7 linked regions of the Homo sapiens genome follow. The protein of the gene in region 6 interacts with the protein of the main gene of each other region in a pairwise test. Each region holds a gene or a part of one and is shown on either strand. Other genes may lie near its edges.

Region 1 (3,127 bases), on a different chromosome or scaffold from region 6:
GCCTCAGGACTTTGCTGCCATTACCATCCCACGGTCTAGGGGAGAAGCCCGGGTTGGGGCTGGTTTCCGGCCTATGCTGCCCTCCCAGGGGGCTCCACAGCGGCCTCTCAGCACCTTCTCCCCTGCCCCCAAGGCCACACTGATCCTAAACTCCATAGGCAGCCTCAGCAAGCTCCGGCCCCAGCCCCTCACCTTCTCCCCTAGTTGGGGTGGACCAAAGAGCCTGCCTGTTCCCGCCCCACCTGGGGAAATGGGGACCACGCCTTCTGCTCCACCACAACGCAATCGGAGGAAATCTGTTCACCGAGTGTTGGCGGAACTGGATGATGAGAGTGAGCCTCCTGAGAACCCGCCACCGGTCCTTATGGAGCCCAGGAAGAAACTCCGTGTAGACAAAGCCCCACTGACTCCCACTGGGTAAGTGGAGTCCTCACTTGGCCCTCTCAGTGTTTTACTGCTTTTCGATTCCTTGTATCCCTAGGCTGTGAGGAGGTCCCCCTGCCTGGGGGGATGGGCACGGGAGGTGGAATAGATGGAATGGCAAGACCTGGGTTAGCTCTGATAGGAAAAGAAAAATATGTGCAGGAGAACATGAGAGGTGGGGTGGGGCAGTGCTTATAAAACAACCGGAGTGAGCATGTCCTGCTTTTTACATTCATATGGCTTTAACCCCATTCTTCTAGTGCCTAAGGATGGGGAACTTTCAGGCTCATACTAGAGGTTTTTAGGCCCACCCTATGTGTTTTTAAGGACAGAGTCCAGGCTCACCTTAGTTCTCAGACCACTGTGCCTCTGTGGCCTCACCCTATGACCAGCCATAGGGTGGCAAGGTCTAGGCCTTCTCCTACAGGTTTCCGGTGACCCTTGTGTCTGTGTCACTTCCTTCAGAAATCGACGTGGCCGTCCTCGGAAGTACCCAGTGAGCGCTCCCATGGCTCCCCCTGCAGTTGGGGGCGGGGAGCCCTGTGCAGCTCCTTGTTGCTGCCTGCCCCAGGAAGAGACAGTGGCCTGGGTTCAGTGTGATGGCTGTGACGTCTGGTTCCATGTGGCCTGTGTTGGCTGCAGCATCCAGGCTGCCAGGGAGGCCGACTTCCGATGCCCAGGGTGCCGGGCTGGCATTCAGACCTAAGGTCCACTGCCAAGGCACCATCGGACACACCTGCCCATGAGTAGACACAGCAGCGAGCAAATAGGTCTGATAAATACCCCCCTTCCCTTCCCTCCCCAGGAGGGAATGACTACAGGGAAGAAGGATGGATTGATGTGGACTCATTCAGGGCCTGGAGCAGACCCTGGTGGCCAAGACAGAAGAGATGGTTTCCTGCCAAAGATATTGCCACCTCCAGGAAATTGCCAGTGAGCTGGAAGTTCCCACTATTACAAGCCATAAGGCCATGTTGCCATGGACACCAGAATATCTGTAGTCAGAGCACCTATCAGTTGCAAAAGCCATGCCTGCAACCGATGGAAAATGTAAGAGGGAGTTCTTAAGGTTCTTGGTGGCATCACCCAAGGCATTCTGGGAAAACCTAGGGCCTGGCCCCAAAACTTCCCTACTCTGTGGCTAGTCCTGCTGCCAACAAAATCGTAGCGACCTGGCTTTTCACAGCTTTGCTTTTATTTCCAAGTCAAGGACAAGCCGCTTCATTCACTCCTGGGCATTTACTCTTCTTGTGGGTCTGTGATATTCCTTGCTTTCCAGGGAGAATGTGCTTGGCAAGGTCTGGAGAACTAATTCAGAATCTTAGGGGAAGGGGAGAGATGGAAATACAAACCTGCTTACTGGAAAGGTGCAAATATATGGGTTGAGCTGGAGGTAGGAATACAGGTAATTAAGGTTTCTAGTTTAAGGGAAAACAGATCTATTGCCATTTAAATAAGGTAACTGGGATTTGGTTAAGTTCACAAAGATAGCAGAAGATTTATTTACAGGCTTCACCTGTACTGTCAGGGCAAGAGAAAGCCTGGTAAACCAGCTACAGCAGTTTACCAGTGTGATGGCTGTGACACAGCTCCACTCCACGGGTGGACACAGCAGAGGGCAACTGGGCTGGCCTGGTTCAGTGTGAATCAAACCGCTTAACCCACACATGGTACATGTGATTTTCTTTTGTGAGCCTTACACCAAGCCAAACTATTGTCAAAGCATCATTTCTATAGAAATAAAGCCTTATCTTGACCTGTTCTATTAAAACCTGCCACACCCGCCCTTTCCTACCTAGATTTAATGAGCCCAAGTTTTTAAAATGGAAGAAATGACTCTGGGGCAAAGACCCCTAATGAACTAGTGGCAGAGCCAGGAATAAAACTTGAGTAACTAATGAGTCACTTATGGGCAGAGTATGCAAAAACCTTAAGTGGAAACCAAATAGACCCTGGTATCAAGAAAGCACAAAGTATTAATAGAAGTTTCTGGTTGGGGTGATCTAGGTTCAACAGAAATAAGATGATTTCTAAGTATAAAGCCATTTAAGAATTCCAGAGTAGGGTGGGAAAGCAAAAAGCCAGCTCTGAACAGGTAACAGCTACATGGTGACTGAGTCTATGGGCAAAAGTTCTTGCATCACAGGCTTTTGGGAACTAGCCTATCACAGGGCCCTGTACAAATAAACTTGGCTGCAATCCCAGCTCTCCCTCTGATGTTGTGTGACCTTAAGGAGTGTAAATGGCACCTTAGTTTCAGGGTCACTTGGGTATGAGCATTGGATATTCCCATCCCTACCTCAGTAACTGAAGGACAAACCAAGATAAGTGTGTCTATCTACTGTGTCCCAGGCTTCTTTATTTAAGAAAAAAGTGATACATGATGTGGGATTAAAATCAAGAGCATCATTGAACTTCACCTTCCCTCCAACCAGTTGCCCCAAACTCCCCTGCCCCCACCCTTTGTGTTCCCAATTCCTTCCTTAGTGAATGAAGAACTTAATCCCAAAAACCCTGGCACAAACTCCAGGTTTTCTTTCCCTAGCTCCTCCCCTCCCCCTGTCCCCCATTCCTAGAAGGGCAGGCACCTCAGTTTGAATGCATGGGAGAGCCCAGAGTGGTGACGGAGACAGGGGGAAAGGCTTCCCCCTCAGGGAAAGGGACCGAGGAGTACAGTGCAGTGAAGTGAGGGCTCCCATAGCCT
Region 2 (3,500 bases), on a different chromosome or scaffold from region 6:
GAGATTGTGCCACTGTACTCCAGCCTAGGCAACAGAGCAAGATTGTCTGAAGAAAAAAAAAAAAAGAGAAAGTTAGAATTGGAAGAACTTTTTCTCCCTCCCTTCTTCCCTTTCTTCCTCTTTCCTTCTTTCTTTTTGGTGTTGGCTAATTCTAAACTTATTAGAACTTGGCGAATCTACCAGGGTTTTCTACTGTTTCCATGGTATGGATATAATATGTCTAGTTAACTAAGTGAAAAAGCACAAAGTGCATCTGAAGAAAGACAGGTTTAATTCTATTTTATTCAATATTATTTTCTGTGACCTTTCTTTATGTATTTGGAAATAACTGTTAAATTGATATACATGACATATCATTCATGAAAGTAAAAAACTGGCAGCTCCAGGACAAGGTAAGCCCAAACATGCATTTTGGTTTGGGTTAGCGCTATTTTTCATTTAAATGAATTTGATGCTTTTAAAAGGGCCTTGTTCTCTACCATTTGCATTCCTCATTATTTTACTTTCTCAGCTTTTACCCAGTAACCTTGCCTACCTAGCTCATGAAAGGATTTGAATTTGTGATACCTGATACTTCTACCCATGAGATTAAGGAACTTTGATAATTAGTCATGTGCTAGAAAAATATTATTAGATTTAAAAAGAAGTTTCAGTGACTAATATATTTTCAGTCTAGACAAAATAATATTTTGCAGCATACTATTTTTAACAGATTTTTGCATAGGAACTTTTATTCTACTTTCAAATTATTCAGTAGATATGTTAATAGATAGTAACATATAATGAAATAGATGTATTGATATGTTCCCATCCCTTTTTCAGATTCTTACTAAGGTGTAGGTTGGAGTCCCTTTTGAGGAGTAGAAGCACAGAAGAATGAAGTAGGGATAAACATTTTATAACCACATGGGTAAAGTAAATAGTAGAGATTGGGCTAAAGTCAGATTATGAGATATCTAGCATAATTACAACAGGAGATGTACGTGGTAAATAGAGCTGCACTGACTGTCCCAGCCGTCACTAAATTTCTTCTTAGTGACTCCAAAATTTACCTGTGCTTACAAATTTAATATAAGGCCTTCAAAAAAACAGCCCATCTCTTTTCCTTTCCCTTCCTTTATGGTGTTTGCTTACAAGTTGATACTGTTCTCAAGTAGCATACAAAATGTCAAAAAATTAGTTTATCTTACTCTGAAATGTTAATCAGTTTCTTTATTACAGCGTTATGGAACATAGACATAATGATATGCATTATGAATGTATGACTCCTTGTCAAGTTACTTCAGACTCAGATAAAGAGAAGACAATAGCATTTCTTCTAAAAGAATTGGATATTCTCAGAACAAGCAATAAAAAGGTATAATATGGAAAGTCTGATAATTGTATAGTATGGGTTTAGCTGTTGATCTTCTAAATTTCCTTTGTTGCCCATCATAATTCAGTTTTATTTTGCACTTTAATCATTTAACAGTAGCTTTATGTTTTTGCCATACCTTGCCATCAGGGTATGGTTGAGTTAAGGGGTTGAAAATGAAAGCATTTTTTTGATTTCATACCTTGCTGGTCCACATTAGCACTTCCTTTTTCATAAGCCCCTGGTTCCTTGTATACATATCTTTAAAAAAAAAGATTCAAGTTTTAGTAAAACTCTGCTTCAGTATTATAGAGAATGGGAGATAGAATGCACTGGTTTCATGTTACTATCTTAATTTTTTTTTCTTTATTAGTATCCATGCCCTATATTTGACCTCAATAATACATGTAATTAAACATTTCAGTAGCAAGGCTTGGCAATATTGTCATTTACCTTGTGTTAATCTTATACTGCTGCATTTTGTCCAGTCCAATTTGTCACGTTATGTTTTATCTTCTGTTCTGACTCTTATTCTAGTTATAGTCATGTGATCATTAAATAATTTTATTAAATAATGTGCATTTTCTGTGTCTTCTTTTTTTTTTAACCTCTACATACTGCTCTGATTTTAATATTCTAGTTGTGTAACCTAATCAAACTGAAGCATGATGTTAGGAATGTTGATCATGTTTGGAGGAAAACAACTAAAATGACAAAAACCTAGGGAGGAATTAAAAAAACATGTGGAGGGATTCTGTATGAGATGTTTTCTGTACTTTCATTTAGCAGTTATTTATTACATGCCACTTATGAGTCAGGTGTCAGTGTCAATTTAAATGGAATATGATGGGGTAGTATTCTCAAAGGGAGATTTGTATCAGATATTAAGATTATTGTCTTAATTTTGTTTCAGAATATTGGATTTACTAAGATAAACTGTAAAGCAGTGCTATCTGTTATTTTATTAGGCAAATCCCTTCCAAATATTTTGCATTAAGAAAAAAGGATGAATGAGACTGCTTTTGCAGTAGTCATTATTATTATTATTTTTTTTGAGATGGAGTTTCACTCTTGTTGCCCAGGCTGGAGTTCAATGGCGCGATCTCAGCCCACTGCAATCTCCGCCTCCTGGGTTCAAGCAATTCTCCTGCCTCAGCCTCTCGAGTAGCTGGGATTACAGGTGCCCGCCACCACACCTAGCTAATTTTTTGTATTTTTAGTAGAGACGGGGTTTCATCATGTTGGCCAGGCTGGTCTCAAACTCCTGACCTCAGGTGATCTGCCCACCTCGGCCTCCCAAAGGGCTGGGATTACAGGCGTGAGCAACCACATCTGAACTGCAGTAGTTATTTTTAAGAATAATGTTGGTCCTCTGAATTTAATTTGCCTGTTCATGCACATATACACATAAATTAAGTGTATATTGGGATGTTTTTACAATTTCTGTATAACTACAGGTAATTATTACTTTATAAATAACTTAAATTTTAAATTTTTTTCTGGAGTTATCTATCTAGGAAGTTAAATATAATATAAGAATTAAGAAAAAACCAAAAACTTTGAAATTAATTATATTTTTGCAAGACATTTGTCAAATAAGAATCCATGATTTTTTTCAATGTGCTTTAGCTTCAGCAGAAATTGGCTAAAGAAGATAAAGAACAGAGAAAACTAAAGTTTAAGCTGGAACTCCAAGAGAAAGAAACAGAAGCTAAAATTGCTGAAAAGACAGCAGGTATAGTAGAGGAGTATTAACACATGGCTTGAAGAATCACACACAAGGTTATTATATGATGTATCTTGGTGAATACTAGCATACTGGCTTATTTGCCAAAGGAGGGGAAGCTCTCCTTTTTTTTTTTTTTTTTTTGGCTGCTTAGAAAATAGGTGGCTTTAACATCCTGGTACTGGTATTAGTGAGAGCTTTACCTGTATTCATACTGATTTGGGCATTAAATGCATTGTTAACACCATGTCAATCCAATCACAAAAAGGTTGTTTGTTTTGTTGGAAGGGGCTGAACAAACAAGGGGAAATAATGATTACCAGTGCCTCTACCTTTCAACCAGCAGTTCAAATACCACTTATTGTTTTAGCTCGTTGAGAGGAAATACTTCTCCTTTGTATGAAGATAGTCACATATTCA
Region 3 (3,500 bases), on a different chromosome or scaffold from region 6:
TCCAGCCTACGCGGCAGAGTGAGACTCCATCTCAAAAAACAAAACAAAACAAAAACTGTCAAAGACTGCCCTGCATGGTTGTTATAAAAACTGGATCATGTCGGCCAGGCGCGGTGGTCACGCCTGTAATCCCAGCACTTTGGGAGGCCGAGGTGGGCAGATCACAAGGTCAGGAGATTGAGACCATCCTGGCTAACGTGGTGAAACCCCGTCTCTACTAAAAAAATACAAACAATTAGCCAGGCGTGGTGGCGGGCGCCTGTAGTCCCAGCTACTCGGGAGGCTGAGGCAGGAGAATGGCGCGAACCCGGGAGGCGGAGCTTGCAGTGAGCCAAGATCGTGCCACTGCACTCCAGCCTGGGCCACAGAGCAAGACTCCGTCTCAAAAAAAAAAAAAAAAAAAAACTGGATCATGTACAAAGCAGTCTCCAAGGCTAGGGGATGAAGGGCATTCTGTAAATGGTTGCATGTGTCTTCATGCATATCAATCTTCCTGTCACCATCCTTGTCCATTCAGACTTCACAATATTAAGACAACTGGTTGTCCATTCATTCGTTCATTCATTTGGTGGGATCGGGTCTCGCTCTGTCATTCAGGCTGAAGTGCAGTGGTGTGATCTTGGTTCACTGAAGCCTCAATCTCAAAAACTTCAAGCAATTATCCCACCTCAGCCTCCCAAAATGCTGCAAATACAGGGATGAGCCATTGTGCCCAGCCTTCTTTCTATTTTTTAAGGTAAAATGAAAATAGACCCTTGCCTCAGAATACATACATACATATATGTCTACATTCTAGGCAATTTAAATATATATACATGTATATGTGTATATGTGTGTGTGTGTGTGTGTGTGCGCGTGTATTTACATTTCAGAAGGATACAGGCTGCAACATAAAGTCAAAGTTTAAATAATGTAGTATGCCTTCATAAGTGTGGCAGACTTTGATCAACAAAACTTAACCAAAAAACCATATGGCCAAGCATTGGGGGTCATGCCTGTAATCCCAGCACTCTGGGAGGCTGAAGTGGGAGTTATCACTTGAGCCCACACAGAAGGCTGAGGCTGCAGTGAGCTGTAATTGTGCCACTGCATTCCAGATTGGGCAAAAGAGACCATGTCTTAAAAACAAAAAACAAAAACCAAAAAATAAAAAACAGACAAGGATTAAGAAGTCTGATATCAGCATTCAAATTTTCCATCCAATAAAAGACACAATAAGAGACAAAATGCAAGTGGCAGATAGGGAGAAAATAGGACTTAAAAGCACAAAGAATTATTGCCCAAGAGCTATAGAGGATTCTTACAGAGAGAAAATAAGATTTAAAAGCACAAAGAATTACTGCCCAAGAACTACAGAGGATTCTTACAGAACAGCACATAAAAAGAAAAAAAATGGGCAAAGTAATCAAAGAGCACTTCGTGAAGGGAAAATAGAAATGTCCTGAAAACATTGGCTGGGAGCAGTGGGTCACGCCTGTAATCCCAGCACTTTGGGAGGCTGAGGCAGGTGGACCACAAGGTCAGGAGATCGAGACCATCCTGGCTGACACGGTGAAACCCCGTCTCTATTAAAAATACAAAAAATTAGCCAGGCGTGGTGGCGGGCGCCTGTAGTCCCAGCTACTTGGGAGGCTGAGGCAGGAGAATGGCATGAACCCGGGAGGCAGAGCTTGCAGTGAGCCGCGATAGCGCCACTGCACTCCAGCCTGGGCAACAGGGCGAGACTCTGCCTCAAAAAAAAAAAAAAAAGAAAGAAAAAAAAGAAATGTCCTGAAAACATCAATATTTATTTTCTCATTCTATCATTCAGGCAATTCCAAACTGCGACTTTAAGAACACAAAATATACACATTTCACGTGAGTAAAAATAAAATGAAGTACAATAATATAAAGCTTTGGTAGGTCACAAGGGAAGAGGGCTTGGAAAGTGGTCAGCGTGCTTGGCAGGGTACCTTAGTGGCAGCTGTGAAAACATAAACTGGGGGCAGGCGCGGTGGCTCACGCCTATAATTCCAGCAGTTTGGGAGGCTGAGGTGGGTGGATCACCTGAGCTCAGGAGTTCGAGACCAGCCTGACTAACATGGTGAAACCCCACCTCCACTAAAAATACAAAAATTAAGCCAGGCACAGTGGCTCACGCCTGTAATCCCAGCACTTTGGGAGGCTGAGGCAGGTGGATCACCTAAGGTCAGGAGTTCAAGACCAGCCTGGGCAACTATGTCTCTACTAAAAATACAAAAATTAGCTGGACGCGGTGGCGCATGCATGTAATCCCAGCTACTCGGGAGGCTGAGGTAGGAGAATCGCTTGAGCCTAGGAGGCAGAGGTTGCAGTGAGACAAGATTATACCATTGCACTCCAGCCTGGGGGACAGAGCGAGACTCCGTCTGAAAAAAAAAAAAAAAAAAGAAAACATAAATTAGGTATATTCTACCACCCAGCAGTTCCACTGGTAGGTATCTCAGAGTCAGAAAGCTGGATAAACGAACATCAATCCATACCTACGTAGATAGATGGTCTTTTTCTTTTTTCTTTTTTTTTGAGACAGAGTCTTGCACTGTCACCCAGGCTGGAGTGCAGTGGTGCGATCTCAGCTCACAGCAAGCTCCGCCTCCCAGGTTCACGCCATTCTCCTGCCTCAGCCTCCCCAGTAGCTGGGACTACAGGTGTCTGCCACCACGCCCAGCTAATTTTTTGTACTTTTAGTAGAGACAGGGTTTCACTATGTTAGCCAGGATGGTCTCGAGCTCCTGACCTCGTGATCCGCCCGCCTCAGCCTCCCAGAGTGCTGGGATTACAGGCGTGAGCCACCGCGCCTGGCCAATAGATGGTCTTAAAGGCCAGCAGAGAGAAGAGAAACCACCAGTGAATGACGAAAATTATTACAATAGATCACTTAATAGAAAAACTGGAAACCCAAAGGTAACGGAAGGCTACTTTCAAAGCACTGAAGGAAAAAATCTATCAGTCACACTATTGTTCAAGAGCAAAGGTGAGATAAAGACTGTTTCAGAGGCTGGATGTGGTGGCTCATACCTGTACTCTCAACACTTTGGTAGGCCAAGGTGGATGGGTCACTTGAGCCCAAGAGTCTGAGACCAGTCTGGGCAACATGGTGAAACCCCGTCCCTACAAAAGATACAAAAATTAGCAGGGTGTGGTGGCATGCGCCTGTTAGTCCCAACTACTTGGGAAGCTGAAGTAGGAGAATTGCTTGAGCTCCAGGGGTTGAGGCTGCGGTGAGCTATGATTCACTCCAGCCTGGACAACAGTGAGACTGTCTCAAAAAAAAAAAAAATTCAGAAAAGCAAAAGCAGAGTTCATTTCCAAGGATACTAGCCAGAGGAATTAGAAAATGTTGTTCTTCAAAAAAACCCCAAGAACGAAGGAAGGAAAAACAAAGGAATTGATGAATATGATGAATGTGGGCTAGGTGTGGTGACTCACACCTGTAATCCCAGCACTTTGGGAGGTCGAGGTGGGGGGATCACTTGAGCCCA
Region 4 (2,961 bases), on a different chromosome or scaffold from region 6:
TGCGAATCCACACTGGAGAAAAACCCTATGAGTGTAAACAATGTGGAAAGGCCTTCAGTCATTCCAGTTCATTTCAAATACATGAAAGGACTCACACTGGAGAGAAACCCTATGAATGCAAGGAGTGTGGGAAAGCCTTCACGTGTTCCAGTTCCTTTAGAATTCATGAAAAAACTCACACAGAAGAGAAACCCTATAAATGTCAGCAATGCGGGAAAGCTTACAGTCATCCCCGTTCACTTCGAAGACATGAACAAATTCACTAGTGAGAAACTGTCCATGTAATAAATGTGGGAAAGCTCTCATTTGTTCCAGTTCACTTTAAAGACATGAATGAACTCACTCTGGAGAGAAGAAGCTGCATGAAAATTACTTAATTCCTGTAATCCCAGCATTTTGAGAGGCTGAGGTGGGTGGATCACTTGAGGTCAGGAGTTTGAGACCACCCTGGCCAACATGGTGAAACCTTGTCTCTACTGAAAATACAAAAAATTTAGCCAGGTGTGGTGGGCACCTGTAATCCCAGCTACTTGGGAGGCTGAGGCAAGTGAATCACTTGAACCCAGGAAGCAGAGGTTGCAGTGAGCAGAGATCATGCCACTGCACTCCAGCCTGGGCGATGGAGTGAGACTCCATCTCAAAAAAAAAAAAAAAAGAAAATTATTTGATTAAATTGAGTCTGTTAGAGTACATCCCTAATCCAATATGATTGGTGTCCCTATAAGAAGAGAAAGACACAACTGAGACAACAAATAGAAGATGATGTGAAGTCATCAGATGATGGCCATCTGCAAGCCAAAGACAGAGCACTGGGACAGATCCTTCTATCAAAGCCACCAACCCTGCTGGCACCTTCATCTTGGGCTTCCAGAACTTTGAACAAATAAAATTCTCTTGTTTGAGCCACCCAGTCTGTGGTATTTTGTTGTGGTGGCTCTAGCAAGTGAATACAGTAAGCAATAAGCAAAAACGTTTATAGATTGTCCAAAAGCCTTAATATTCACATGCAAAGCCACACTGGAGAGAAACTATATGAATGTAAGACGTGGGAGAGCCTTCATTGAGTCTTCAGTCCTTTCTACATACAGGAGAAATCACATAGGAGAGAAATTGTATGAATGTAAGGAGCATGAAAAAGCCTGTGAATGTTCACTATATTTTAATATTCACATGCAAGTTGTCTGGTCGTAGACCATGTGAAAATAGAGGAGAAAAAAGGAAAGAAAGTTTCTTTTACTGTGAACGCAAGGAATGTGACCCCATACACCATACTGGAACTTGGAGTGGACTGAAATCCCATTAGGATTGTGGAAAAGCTTACATTAATGTTTTCTACCTTCTAGAAGGTGTAAGAAGTCGAACTGGAGAGAAGCCTTTTACCTGTAATGCATGTAGGAAGCCTTACATTAATTCCACAGAATTTTTTTTACACATGTAAAATTACCTCAGAACCCTGGGAAGGTAAGGAATATGGTATAACCTTTAAATATTTCACATGCCATAATAAGTACATGAATTCTGATAATACTGTACCGTTTCTTGAGTAGTGTTAGTACCTTATACTATCAAAATAATCCTAAATCCTCCCTCTCAGACCTTCCATCATTACTATATTTCACTTTTATGCCTATAAACACACACAAATTAGCATATGTAATCTAATACATTGTAGCTATTTTTCAGAAGTTATCAGATCAATTAAGTATTAGAAAAATAAACATTTTTATTTTACCTTCACTTCTTCCTTCTATGCTCAAAGTTGGATGTAATTCTTATACTTGATCCTCAATACTTAAAGCATTTCCCCCCCTCTGGCTTCTATGAAAATTTTTTGTTATCTTTGATATTCTGTTATTTTTAAATGATATGCCTAGGTATAGGTTTTTGGTGCTCGTCCTTCTTGGTGTTTGCTTAGCCTCCTGGATTTGCGTTTTGGTGTCTGAGTTAATTTTGAGAAATTCTGTCATTGTTTCCCTTTTTTTTTCTTTCCATCTGGTATTTCCTTTATATGTAGGATACATCTTTTGTAGTTATCCCACAGTTCTTATATCTTGTTTTTTTATTCTTCTCTTTGCTTTTCAGGTGTGGATGTTTCTGCTGATATATTCTCAAGCTCTTTAGTTGGCTGTTTCTTGGCCAATAATAAGCCTACCAAAGACATTCTTCATTTCTGTTACACTGTCTTCAATTTCTAGCATTTCTTTGTGGTTCTTAGAATTTCCATCTCTGTGTTTACACTGCCTGTCTGTTCTTGGATGCTGTCTGCTTTATCCAGTAGAACCCATGGCATATCAATCATAATTGTTTTAAATTCCCAGTCTGATAATTTCAGCAATCCTGCTATATCTGGTTCTGGTTCTTACTCTTTCTCTTTAAACTAACTTTTGCCTTTTAGTATGCTTGTAATTTTTCCTTAGCTGGACATGGCATACTGGATAAGAGGAAATGCTGTAAGCAGGCCTCTAGTAATCATGATAAGCTGTGGGGAGAGGGGCAGCATTCTATTGTCCAGGGATTAGATGTCAGTCTTGCAGTGAGTCTGTGCTTCTGCACTGTGAACTTCAGTTTTTCCCACCCTTTAGTTGGGTCAGGATGTATAGAGTTGGCTGGAGTTGGATATTTCCCTTCCTCCAGGTCACTGAAGCTCTGACTAAAACTCCAGGTGTGGTGGCTTATGCCTGTAATACCAGCACTTTGGGAGGCCAAGGCAGGTGGATCACCTGAGGTTGGGAGTTCATGACCAGCCTGAATTGCTTGAATCCAGGAGGTGGAGGTCACAGTGAGCCGAGATTGTGATACTGCACTCCAGCCTGGGAAACAGTGAGACACTGTCTCAAAAAAATAAATAAATAAATAAAAGGCTAGGCGCAGTGGCTCAACCCTGTAATCCCAGCACTTTGGGAGGCAGAGGTGGGTGGATCATGAGGTCAGGAGATCGAGACCATCCTGGCCAACATGGTG
Region 5 (3,500 bases), on a different chromosome or scaffold from region 6:
AGTCTGTATTCACAGTTCTTCTGCCTCATTTTTTAAAAACTTAGTTTATCTGCATCATGATCCAAATAAGGTTCACACTGATCAACATGGCTCTTAAATCCCTTCTCATCACTCCTTTATCTCTTTTCTCTTGCAGTTTATTTTTGAAGAAGCTGGGTCACTTGACTGTGGAGTCTGTCCAAGTCTGAAGTTTTATTTTTTTTGCATCCCCAAGGTGGTGTTTAACAGACTCATTTGGGTTTACAATTTGGGAGTTGAATCCGGAGGCTTTACTTCTAGTTGGCTTGCTTTTGCCAAGACTACTTTTTAGGAAGTGCTATGTTCTTCCTTTGGAAAGCACATAAGGTCTGGCTGTCTCTTTTTTTAGTGATGTTGCTGTTTGGTCAATAAGTTAAGGTGGAATCAGCCTGATTTGTTCTTCGCTTTTAAAACAAAACAAAACAAAAAACAATAACAACAACAAAAAACACCCTTTCTCCTTTGTCACTAATAAGGAATATGCAGAGTGAGACTTGAGATTCTGTGAATAGCCTCCCTGATAACATCTTGCTCAACAGTTTCAGCGTCCATTGACAATTCTTTTTTTTTATATTTTTTATTTTAATAAAGACAGGGTCTATGTTACCCAGGCTGGTCTCAAATTCCTTGCCTCAAGTGATCCTCTCACCTCAGCCTCCCAAAGTGCTGGGATTACAGGCATGAGCCAGGGCACCCTTGAATGAATTATTACATTAGGGACTGCAAAAGAGAAATTTTCAGATTTTCTCTCTCCTTCACAAAGTAGCTGGCATTCTTGTATAATATAGTCTTTCTCTCACTCTCCCCCTTTTCTTCTACCATGTATATCCATGGATTTCTAAAAATTATTATTAAATGTGTTATAATCCATACTCTCATAATGCTGACTGTCCCAAATTTGGCCATTGGGAGCTTCTTGGAAAGTCATCCTCTGTCTTTCTGACATGGCACTAAGGGTCTTTCAACACCTCCTTGCTTTCTGACACAAGCATGGCAAGCTAACCTTGTATGTTTCCTGTCCCAGACCTCAAATCAGCCATTTCTCCAAGGAGCCCTGAAACCTTTCACTGGGAAATGGCATTTAAAAACCAAGCTCGGAGAACACAATGCATCTCGGTTAATTAAGTATCACTGCTTGTAGGCTCTTTGGACAGAGCAAGGATATTTTAAATAGGTAAATCACAAGTTCATGGTGACACCCTGAATTCAAATCCAACACGGAGGCTTCTTCCTCTGCTCCCTCATCTCTCCCTCATCTCACATTAGCATCGCCGTTCCACCACAAGGAAAACCCTCGATTCCCAAAATTTTTAATATACTTATCCATGTGGTGCTCTATCTACAATAAACACAAAATAGCGCCAAACTGACGCCACCAATATACTACCAACAACAAACAGTGCAGTTCAAGATTTCTTTGCAGTTCTTTCTAGCCCTGGAACATAGTCTCACTATACACAGGATCTTTTCCTTCAGCTAACCAGATGATCATTGTACATGGTTATGCAAAAATGTTTCACATGTACTTCCCATTTCATCATGCAGTATATTAAAAAGATGTCCTTAACAGTTGAGACTTAATAATTTTTACTGTTTCATCAGAACATTCTTATGTGAAACTGACATTTTCTTTTTAAATTGAGTGCATGGAGGTGAATGCAATGACTACTAATACAGTTTGTTGCTACCACCTGGATTCATGCTAAAGATCAGCAGTTTTCTCCACTTTGGCTTTTGCACAATCAGTGCAAATATCAACACAGCAAAAAGGGCAAATAATCTTAGTATTATTATGACATTACATTCGCCCTCATGGACCCGTGAAAGGGTCTCAGGTCCTCCATCTCACACTTTGACCACTGCACTAGCATATACAGAGTTGTGTATTCAAAAGCTACTTAGCTTCGTGGAATTCTCTGTGTGGGTGTGTTGACTTAATTTTACATTTAGTCAGGTTCCATTTAGGAAACTGGTAATCCTTAATCTATTTACTTTCATCCTTATTTTAATGCTTCTTGATTAAAAATAATTAGAAAATAATGGTTCAATCAAAGGAAGTGTAACATAAATACAGAAATGGGATACCCCAAGTTCAGTGATGCTGAAGGGTTAATACAAACACTTTCCCACCATCTAATAAAATCACTGCAAGGGACAAACAAGAACAACACTTACAGAAGTAGAGTTCCACTAACAATTTTTTTACCAGCCACACGTAGTGCAGCACTAGCAAAGCCTAACTCTGACATCATTCTTGGGGAAAATATTGAAACTTTTCTCAAGGAGGTATGTTAAACAATGTTTGCCACCTTATCTTTTCAAAGACACCTTTTGTTGTTGTTTAGCACTCAGAACTAATACGCAAGGAAAACACCCAGACTAGAGAAACACAGACAATACTTATGAAAGTGTGCCTATGTTGTAGCTACATAATAGCCACTGAGTTCAGTCCCTGCAGAGGCACTAAGAGGGACAGTGTGTCAATTTCAGTCTTTTTCTTTTGGCCTTCTCACCATTCTACAAAATTCAAACAGCCCTGCTGGCCCAGAAGCTTCTTTTAACATAAATGGTTTAAAGGAGGAGGAGCACCCCATTTATGGATTTAATGGAAATACATACAAGGAATGGAGAGGGTTGGTGATAGGAATAAACTGCTTCCAGCAGCAACTGCATTAGTCCCTGTGCTATTGTGTTCAGCCCCACCACTGCTGCGAGCCTGTGTCTGACTAGCTAATTCCTCCTTCTGCATCTTTGACTTCTGCATCTGCTCCAGAGGTACCATTAGGGGGCTATAATTACTGATTAGGAACAAAAGGAAAGAGCACACTTTCAAAAAAACGGTGTGCATTCCTGGGGTACGCAGGGCTCTGATCCTTCAAAAGGTATTAAAAGAGTTTCAGATAGTCACAAGCTTCAAGATTTGCCAAAAAAAAAAAAAAAACTGTAAAATATTCAAGTGTCCTCAATGCAACGAACTGATTTGTCTAACAGATGCAACAAAGGCAGCAAGATTTATATGAGAAGGACCTGATAGAAAGGATACACAGGGACCTCTTCTAATGAATGACCAGTTCCACAACACAGTGATACATTAGGCCCAAGGATCTGTCACTTTCCTGTTCCATTCAGCAGCGATCCACTGGGTAGCTGCATAGTCTAGACAAAAATGCAAGACCTTTTTTTTTTTTTTTCAAAGTTTGTGTTCCATTCTATTACAATAAAGCCAATCATAAGACTCACCAAAAAGAAAACTACAACAAGTAACTGAAAACAACAAAAATACAAAATTTCTCAATCAATGGATATTTACATTAGTTGAACTTCTGAATTAGGATAACTACTATCTAGTGAACCAAAAAAAAAAGGGAAAATTCTCATCTGAAAGTGAAAAGACCGTTTCATTATTTATAATACTTGTTAAAAATCGACAACTTCATGCTATTCCTTTCATGTACAGTTTCTGTTTGTCTACTCTGTCTTTA
Region 6 (2,302 bases):
TGCAAGTGTGAGTGTGTATATGCATGTGTGTATATGCATGCCATGTGTGTGCATGTATGTGTATATGCATATATGAGTGAGTGCACGTGACAGTCTACACGTGAGGGTGCATGTGTGTGCGCGTGTGGGTGACTGCATATGTGTGTGCATGTGTGGGTGCGGGTGCATCTGTGTGTGCATGTTTGGGTGCGGGTGCATGTGTGCGTGCACGTGTGTGTGGATGAGAGGTCGCATGTGTGTGGGTGAGGGCGTGTGTGTGTGCATGTGTGTGGGTGAGGGGGCATGTGTGTGCACGTGTGTGGGTGAGGTGTGTGTGTGCATGTGTCAGGGTGTGTGTGCGCGCATGTGTGTGGGTGAGGGCCTGTGTGTGCGTGTGTGTGGGTGAGAGATGTGTGCGCATGTGTGTAGGTAAGGGTGCTTGTGTGCGCATGTGTGTGGGTGAGGGCGTATGTGTGTGGGTGAGGGCACGTGTGCGCGCGTGTGGGTGAGATGGCGTGTGCGTATATCCATGTATGACTGCATCTGTATTTGCATGAGTTCATGTGTGAGTGCATGTTTATACGCGTGTCAGGGTCTCTGTGTATGTGTATGACGTGTGAGTACATGTGTTAATGTGTGTGTACATGTGTATATGCCTGTGTGCATGTGTGTATGCATGTGTATACATGTGTACTTGTGTATGTGTATATGTGTATGTCTGTATATGTGTGTGTATGCCTGTGTACGTATGTATATGCGTGTGTGTATGCATGTGAGTGCATGTTTATGCGTGTGTATGTGTACTTGTGTGTGCCTGTGTGAGTGCATGTGTGTGTACATGTGTATATGCGCGTGTGCGTATGCGTGTATGTGTACGTGTGTATATGCATGTGTGTGTATATGCCTGCATGTATATGCACAAGTGTGTATATATGTGTATGTGTGAGTGTATGTGTGCATGTGTATCTGTATGTGCGTGTGTATATGTGCATGTGTGTATGTGTGCGTGAGTGTGTGCATGTGTGTGTGTATGTGTGCGTGTGTATGTGTGTGCGTGAGTGTGTGAGAGTGTGTATGTATACGCACGCGTGTGTGTCTGTCTCCCTCAGGACAGTGCCCAGGCGGATGGGTCAGTGCTCCTGGGTTGGTTTGCCCCTGGTGGCCCATGTCTGAGCCCTGCCCCTTACGGCTCTGTCTGCAGGTTCTCCCATGGGCAGGTGGTCTCTCTGGATGAGCTGCGCCCCTTCCAGGACCCAGACCTGAGCTCCCTGCAGGCCGGCTCTGCGTGTCTGGCCAAGCACCAGGATGGCCTCTGGCACGCAGCACGCATCACCGGTGAGGCTGGCCGTGGGGGCCTCCCGGGAACACCCTCCCAGGCCCCACGTGTGTTGTCACTGTGTGGCTGCTCCCTGCTTCCTTTGGGTTGAGTGTCGGGACTCTGGCTCTGGGCCCGAAATGAGCACACCTACCCTCAGCCTCTGCCCTGCCTTGCTCCTCATGTCCAGGGTGGTTCCCTTCAGTGGCACCTGCTGTCAAGGATTCTGACCTGCAGCTTGTCTCTGCCCCCAGATGTGGACAACGGCTACTACACAGTCAAGTTTGACTCGCTGCTGCTGAGGGAGGCCGTGGTGGAGGGGGACGGCATCCTGCCCCCACTGCGCACAGAGGCCACAGAGTCCGACTCAGACAGCGACGGTACGGGTGACTCCAGCTATGCCAGAGGTATGGCAGCAGCTGCGGAGCCCAGGAGCCAGGAAGGTGGGGTCACCCTGAGAGGCTCCTGGCCGGTGAGGGCACCAACCATCTAACCAAACTATTGGAGAGTGTGTGACTGCGGCGAGGGTGCCACCTGTGCCTGAGGAGGCCGTGTGGGTAGGGGTAGATCCGTGGCGGCCTTTATCTTCAAGGAGTGTGGGTGCAACAGCTACAGTCTCATTGATGGGAGGCCATGGTCGTGGCTGTGGCCATGGGAGAGGAGGGGCCTGGAGTTGCCGAGGAAGTCACAGAAAATGACCAACTGATGGGGCCTGGAGTGCAGGAGGGGCAGCTCCTCTGCATGGCTTCTCAGACTTGGGACCTGGGTGCCTGGGATCCTGGCAGACAGAGGTTGTGTCCAGACAGCCAGCATGGAAGTTTCGGGAATGGGAACTGGTGGGCAGTGTCCAGCTCTCCAGAGGGGTGTGTGTATGCGTGTGCGTGTGTGTGTATATATGTGGGAGGTCACCTGACCCAAGCATGGCGGGCTGAGTCCAGGAGGGGTCTGCATGTTGGAGGTGTACCCAGGGATCAGTGATGGTGGTTTCTGAAGCCCCATGTCCCTGGT
Region 7 (3,500 bases), on a different chromosome or scaffold from region 6:
TACTTTTTTCTTTTTTTTTGAGACGGAGTCTTGCTCTGTCGCCCAGGCTGGAGTGCAGTGGTGTGATCTCGGCTTACAGCAAGCTCCACCTCCCACCATTCTCCTGCCTCAGCCTCCCGAGTAGCTGGGACTACAGGCGCCCCCCACCACGCCCAGCTAATTTTTTGTATTTTTTAGTAGAGATGGGGTTTCACCATGTTAGCCAGGATGGTCTCCATCTCCTGACCTCGTGATCCGCCCCCCTCGGCCCCTCAAAGTGCTGGGATTACAGGCGTGAGCCACCGCACCCGGCCGATGGTGTTCCTGTCTTTAGGGAACCGTGGAAGAAACTGTTGTCTGGTGTCAATATCCCTGTGCAGTCACTTCTGCACTAGAATTGCTTTTCCACTAATAGAGCTCCTCCTGTTTCCTTCTTTGCCTTGGGAAGTTCAGAGCCAAATCTGCTTTGACTAACCAGACTAAGGCTTCATGGCAAACACTTTGTGTCTAATTTTCTCTTAGCTTCATTTTTCTCGCTATAAAGAAAAATCTTGCCTTATTAGAGGACCTTCACAAGACACTTTAAAGGCTGTGGGACAAGGCAGGGTACAACTAAAAGTGGCACCAACTCTAACCACAGATTAGTATGGGCTCTGGCTGGAAAATAAGACAGACAAATAAGCCAGTCAACACAAAACCCGCCAAGCCAGTCTCCAGCTGGGGATTTCCACTCTTGTGTCTTTATGTGGCCTCAGTCGGTTCAGCCTGTGTCTCATTGTCAGCTGTTTGAGCCAAATTCTGGATGAAGTGTTTTCCTAGGCATAATGGGTGTTGTGCTTTAAGAGAGGCAAGATGCACAAAGTGTTACATGTAATTGTCTCTTTTTAAATAATGGTCGTTTTTAAGGCTATGGAATACAAAGGAATCCTTCCATGGAGAAGCATGCTATTCTCACATCAGAAAACGGTTTCAGGGCTTTGTCATCTTTTTTTTTCAAATTCTCTTGGGCCACAGCTAATGATTTTAATCATTCACCGTTCCCACCTTCTATGTGTTCATTCGTTTATTCATCAATATGTACTGAGCCAGGTCACTTGCTGGACATTAGGAGCTCACAGTTGGGTGGGGGACTTGCTCAGAAACAGTTATTTACAATACAGCTTAAACAATTTTGTAAATATGAAGCTAGCAAAATTATGTCCAAGAAATGTCTGACACTCTCTGGCTGGGAGAAGGATGCAGTCTGGGAAGACTTCTAGGAAGAGGTGATGGTAGGGTTGGGTGCTGGACAATGAGTAGGAGCACACTGTATATAGAGAGGACGCAGAGAGGACAGACAGGAACTGTGTACATGTGAGAGCTTGACAGGCTGGGGAACCAGCTGGGGTGCAGCCTGACTTGAGGAGAGGTGAGGGTATAAGGGTGGGGGGATTGAGAGACACAGCTGGATCCATAGGCCATAGTTAGTTCATGAAGGCCTTATGTGCCATGGAGTTCAGACTTTGTCCTGTAATGAGATAGGAGACAGGAATGTTTGTTTGTTTGTTTTTGAGACAGGGTCTCACTCTATTGCCCAGGCTAGAATGCAGTGGCTCAATCTCAGCTTACTGCAACCTTTGCCTCCCAGGTTCAAGGGATTCTCCTGCCTCAGCCCCTGGAAGAGCTGAGACGACAAGCACGTGCCACCATGCCCAGCTAATTTTTGTATTTTTAGTAGAGACAGTGTTTCACCATGTTGGCCAGGCTGGTCTCAAACTCTTGACCTCAAGTGATCTGCCCACCTTGGCCTCCCAAAGAGCTGGGAGGTGTGAGCCACTGCACCCAGCCCAGGGGAGTGTTTTGAACTGAGGGATGAAAGCATTCACATGGTCAGATTAGTGCTTTAGAAAAGTCACTTTAGAGATAGAGTGGAAGATGGACAGAGGAGGCCAGGATGGGAGGCTGGAAGAGAACTTGGGAGGAGGCCACAATGTCCAGGAGAGAGATGATGGTGGCCTGGACCAAGACAGGGGCAGTGGGGATGGGGAGAAACAGGCAGGTCAAGAGATGCCACAGGAATGGAGATTGGAATTGGAGAATGGGTAGGAGGAATCCCCAGATGATGCCTGGGTTTCTGGCCTGAGAGATGAAGGGCTGGGATTTCTGTTCTCTGAGTCTGCAAAGGCAAAAAAGTGGCTGTGCTCGGTTTCATGCATTGATTTATTCCATCATACATATGTTTTGAGAACCTGTGTGTCAGGTCTGGTGCTAGCTGCTGGAGTTTGGGGTTACCAGGTGGTGCCATGTGTCCTCTATCGACCCCTCATCCTACCCTACTCATCTGCCCTCTGAGCCCCCTCTCGCCTCCCCGGAGCTGCTCCCTGCCCACCCTGGACTTCCTGCTAGTGCTTGGTCTCCCCTGGCCAGCTCCATTCCAGCGCTCTGGGTGTGACCTTAGGCCTGGTTCCCCACCAAAATGAGGTTGGACTCTATAGACTCCTGGCCTCCTAGGCTGAATGGGGCTTGCAGGCCATCTCACAGCCCCCTCCCAATGTACAGCATGCTGCCAGGTGGGATCTGCCCCTGCCCAACAGCCAAGTGCTAGGCCACCCTCCCTCCCTCCTGAGGCCCTCATCTGTCCACCCCTTCTCGGGTGGGCAGCACTGCCACTGCCAGCCAAGCCTGATCACCTGAGGCAGTCATCTTCCTTCCAACTCCTGGCCAGGACAGAGCTTCAGAAAATGCAGCCATGGTTCTTACCTGCAAACATGAGAATCCACTGGAACTGTTTTAAGCAAGAAAGGAGTTTATGGAAGAGTATGAGATAGCCCATAGGATCTCCAGGAGGGCCAGAGAGTCGGGATGGAAGATGGGCAGCAGGAATGAAGTCCAGACTCCAGCAGGGGTTGGTGCCAGTATAGGCCCCACGGCACCCCTGCTGGGCAAGACATCACCACTCACACCACTGACCAGAGCCCCCACCACTGCTGTCCCTCAGTGCCACATGCCACCATCACTACCTTCACCGTCATTTCCAAATCCACGCTTTGGCTTGGAGGCGTCTGGTCACACTCCTGCAGCACAGGTGCAAAGGGAGCTGGGAGAGGGGGTTTTCTAGCTTCTCCTTAGTGAAGCCACATACCACAGGAAAGTATTGAAGAGGGGCTGTCCAGGTGCAAAACAGGACACATGTCCCCTGCGGTGGCCACACCCCCTCAGTCAGCACTGCAGCTGAACCTTGCTGGCCTTTGGCGTCCTTCTTAGAACATGGTTTCCTGCTCCACCTTTGAATAAGCTCCAGGTGCTCCTTCCCCAGGGAGACTGACCTCTCACCCTTTTTGTACCCAAGGCAGACCCGTGGCGCAGTGTGTGTGAGGCTGAAGCCTCTCTGGGAAGGGCCCCGTGTCAGCCTGACCCTGCCTTCTGCATGCATAGCTGGCACAGAGTAGGTTTCAATGAACACGTAAGGAAGGAAGGAAAGGAGGAAGGATGGAGAGGGAGGAATCCCCAGTGCCAGCACTGAAAAACCGCACCTCCGCATG

What was found.
Region 1: the proteins of ZGPAT (region 6) and TCF19 interact in binary tests that used the Homo sapiens proteins (3 or more experiments, as listed by UniProt).
Region 2: the proteins of ZGPAT (region 6) and MIPOL1 interact in binary tests that used the Homo sapiens proteins (3 or more experiments, as listed by UniProt).
Region 3: the proteins of ZGPAT (region 6) and ZNF329 interact in binary tests that used the Homo sapiens proteins (3 or more experiments, as listed by UniProt).
Region 4: the proteins of ZGPAT (region 6) and ZNF426 interact in binary tests that used the Homo sapiens proteins (3 or more experiments, as listed by UniProt).
Region 5: the proteins of ZGPAT (region 6) and CDCA7L interact in binary tests that used the Homo sapiens proteins (3 or more experiments, as listed by UniProt).
Region 7: the proteins of ZGPAT (region 6) and TRIM14 interact in binary tests that used the Homo sapiens proteins (3 or more experiments, as listed by UniProt).

The regions. Positions count from the first base shown.
Region 1 is NC_000006.12:31,161,589-31,164,715, forward strand, and holds the end of TCF19 (transcription factor 19), read left to right. Parts: coding exon 1-417; intron 418-888; coding exon 889-1,129; 3' UTR 1,130-1,228; coding exon of another isoform or gene 1,229-1,238; 3' UTR 1,239-2,627; downstream 2,628-3,127. Other genes in the region: POU5F1 (POU domain, class 5, transcription factor 1), read right to left, coding at 3,013-3,127. UniProt on the Homo sapiens protein: Potential transcription factor that may play a role in the regulation of genes involved in cell cycle G1/S transition. May bind to regulatory elements of genes, including the promoter of the transcription factor FOXO1.
Region 2 is NC_000014.9:37,267,437-37,270,936, forward strand, and holds part of MIPOL1 (mirror-image polydactyly gene 1 protein), read left to right. Parts: intron 1-1,221; coding exon 1,222-1,357; intron 1,358-2,983; coding exon 2,984-3,089; intron 3,090-3,500.
Region 3 is NC_000019.10:58,130,290-58,133,789, forward strand, and holds part of ZNF329 (zinc finger protein 329), read right to left. Parts: intron 2,388-3,500; coding exon of another isoform or gene 2,350-2,387; intron 1-2,349. UniProt on the Homo sapiens protein: May be involved in transcriptional regulation.
Region 4 is NC_000019.10:9,525,685-9,528,645, reverse strand, and holds part of ZNF426 (zinc finger protein 426), read left to right. Parts: coding exon 1-266; 3' UTR 267-2,961. UniProt on the Homo sapiens protein: May be involved in transcriptional regulation.
Region 5 is NC_000007.14:21,918,400-21,921,899, forward strand, and holds part of CDCA7L (cell division cycle-associated 7-like protein), read right to left. Parts: intron 1-3,500. UniProt on the Homo sapiens protein: Plays a role in transcriptional regulation as a repressor that inhibits monoamine oxidase A (MAOA) activity and gene expression by binding to the promoter.
Region 6 is NC_000020.11:63,732,039-63,734,340, forward strand, and holds part of ZGPAT (zinc finger CCCH-type with G patch domain-containing protein), read left to right. Parts: intron 1-1,180; coding exon 1,181-1,314; intron 1,315-1,548; coding exon 1,549-1,701; intron 1,702-2,302. UniProt on the Homo sapiens protein: Transcription repressor that specifically binds the 5'-GGAG[GA]A[GA]A-3' consensus sequence. Represses transcription by recruiting the chromatin multiprotein complex NuRD to target promoters.
Region 7 is NC_000009.12:98,095,223-98,098,722, reverse strand, and holds part of TRIM14 (tripartite motif-containing protein 14), read left to right. Parts: intron 1-3,500.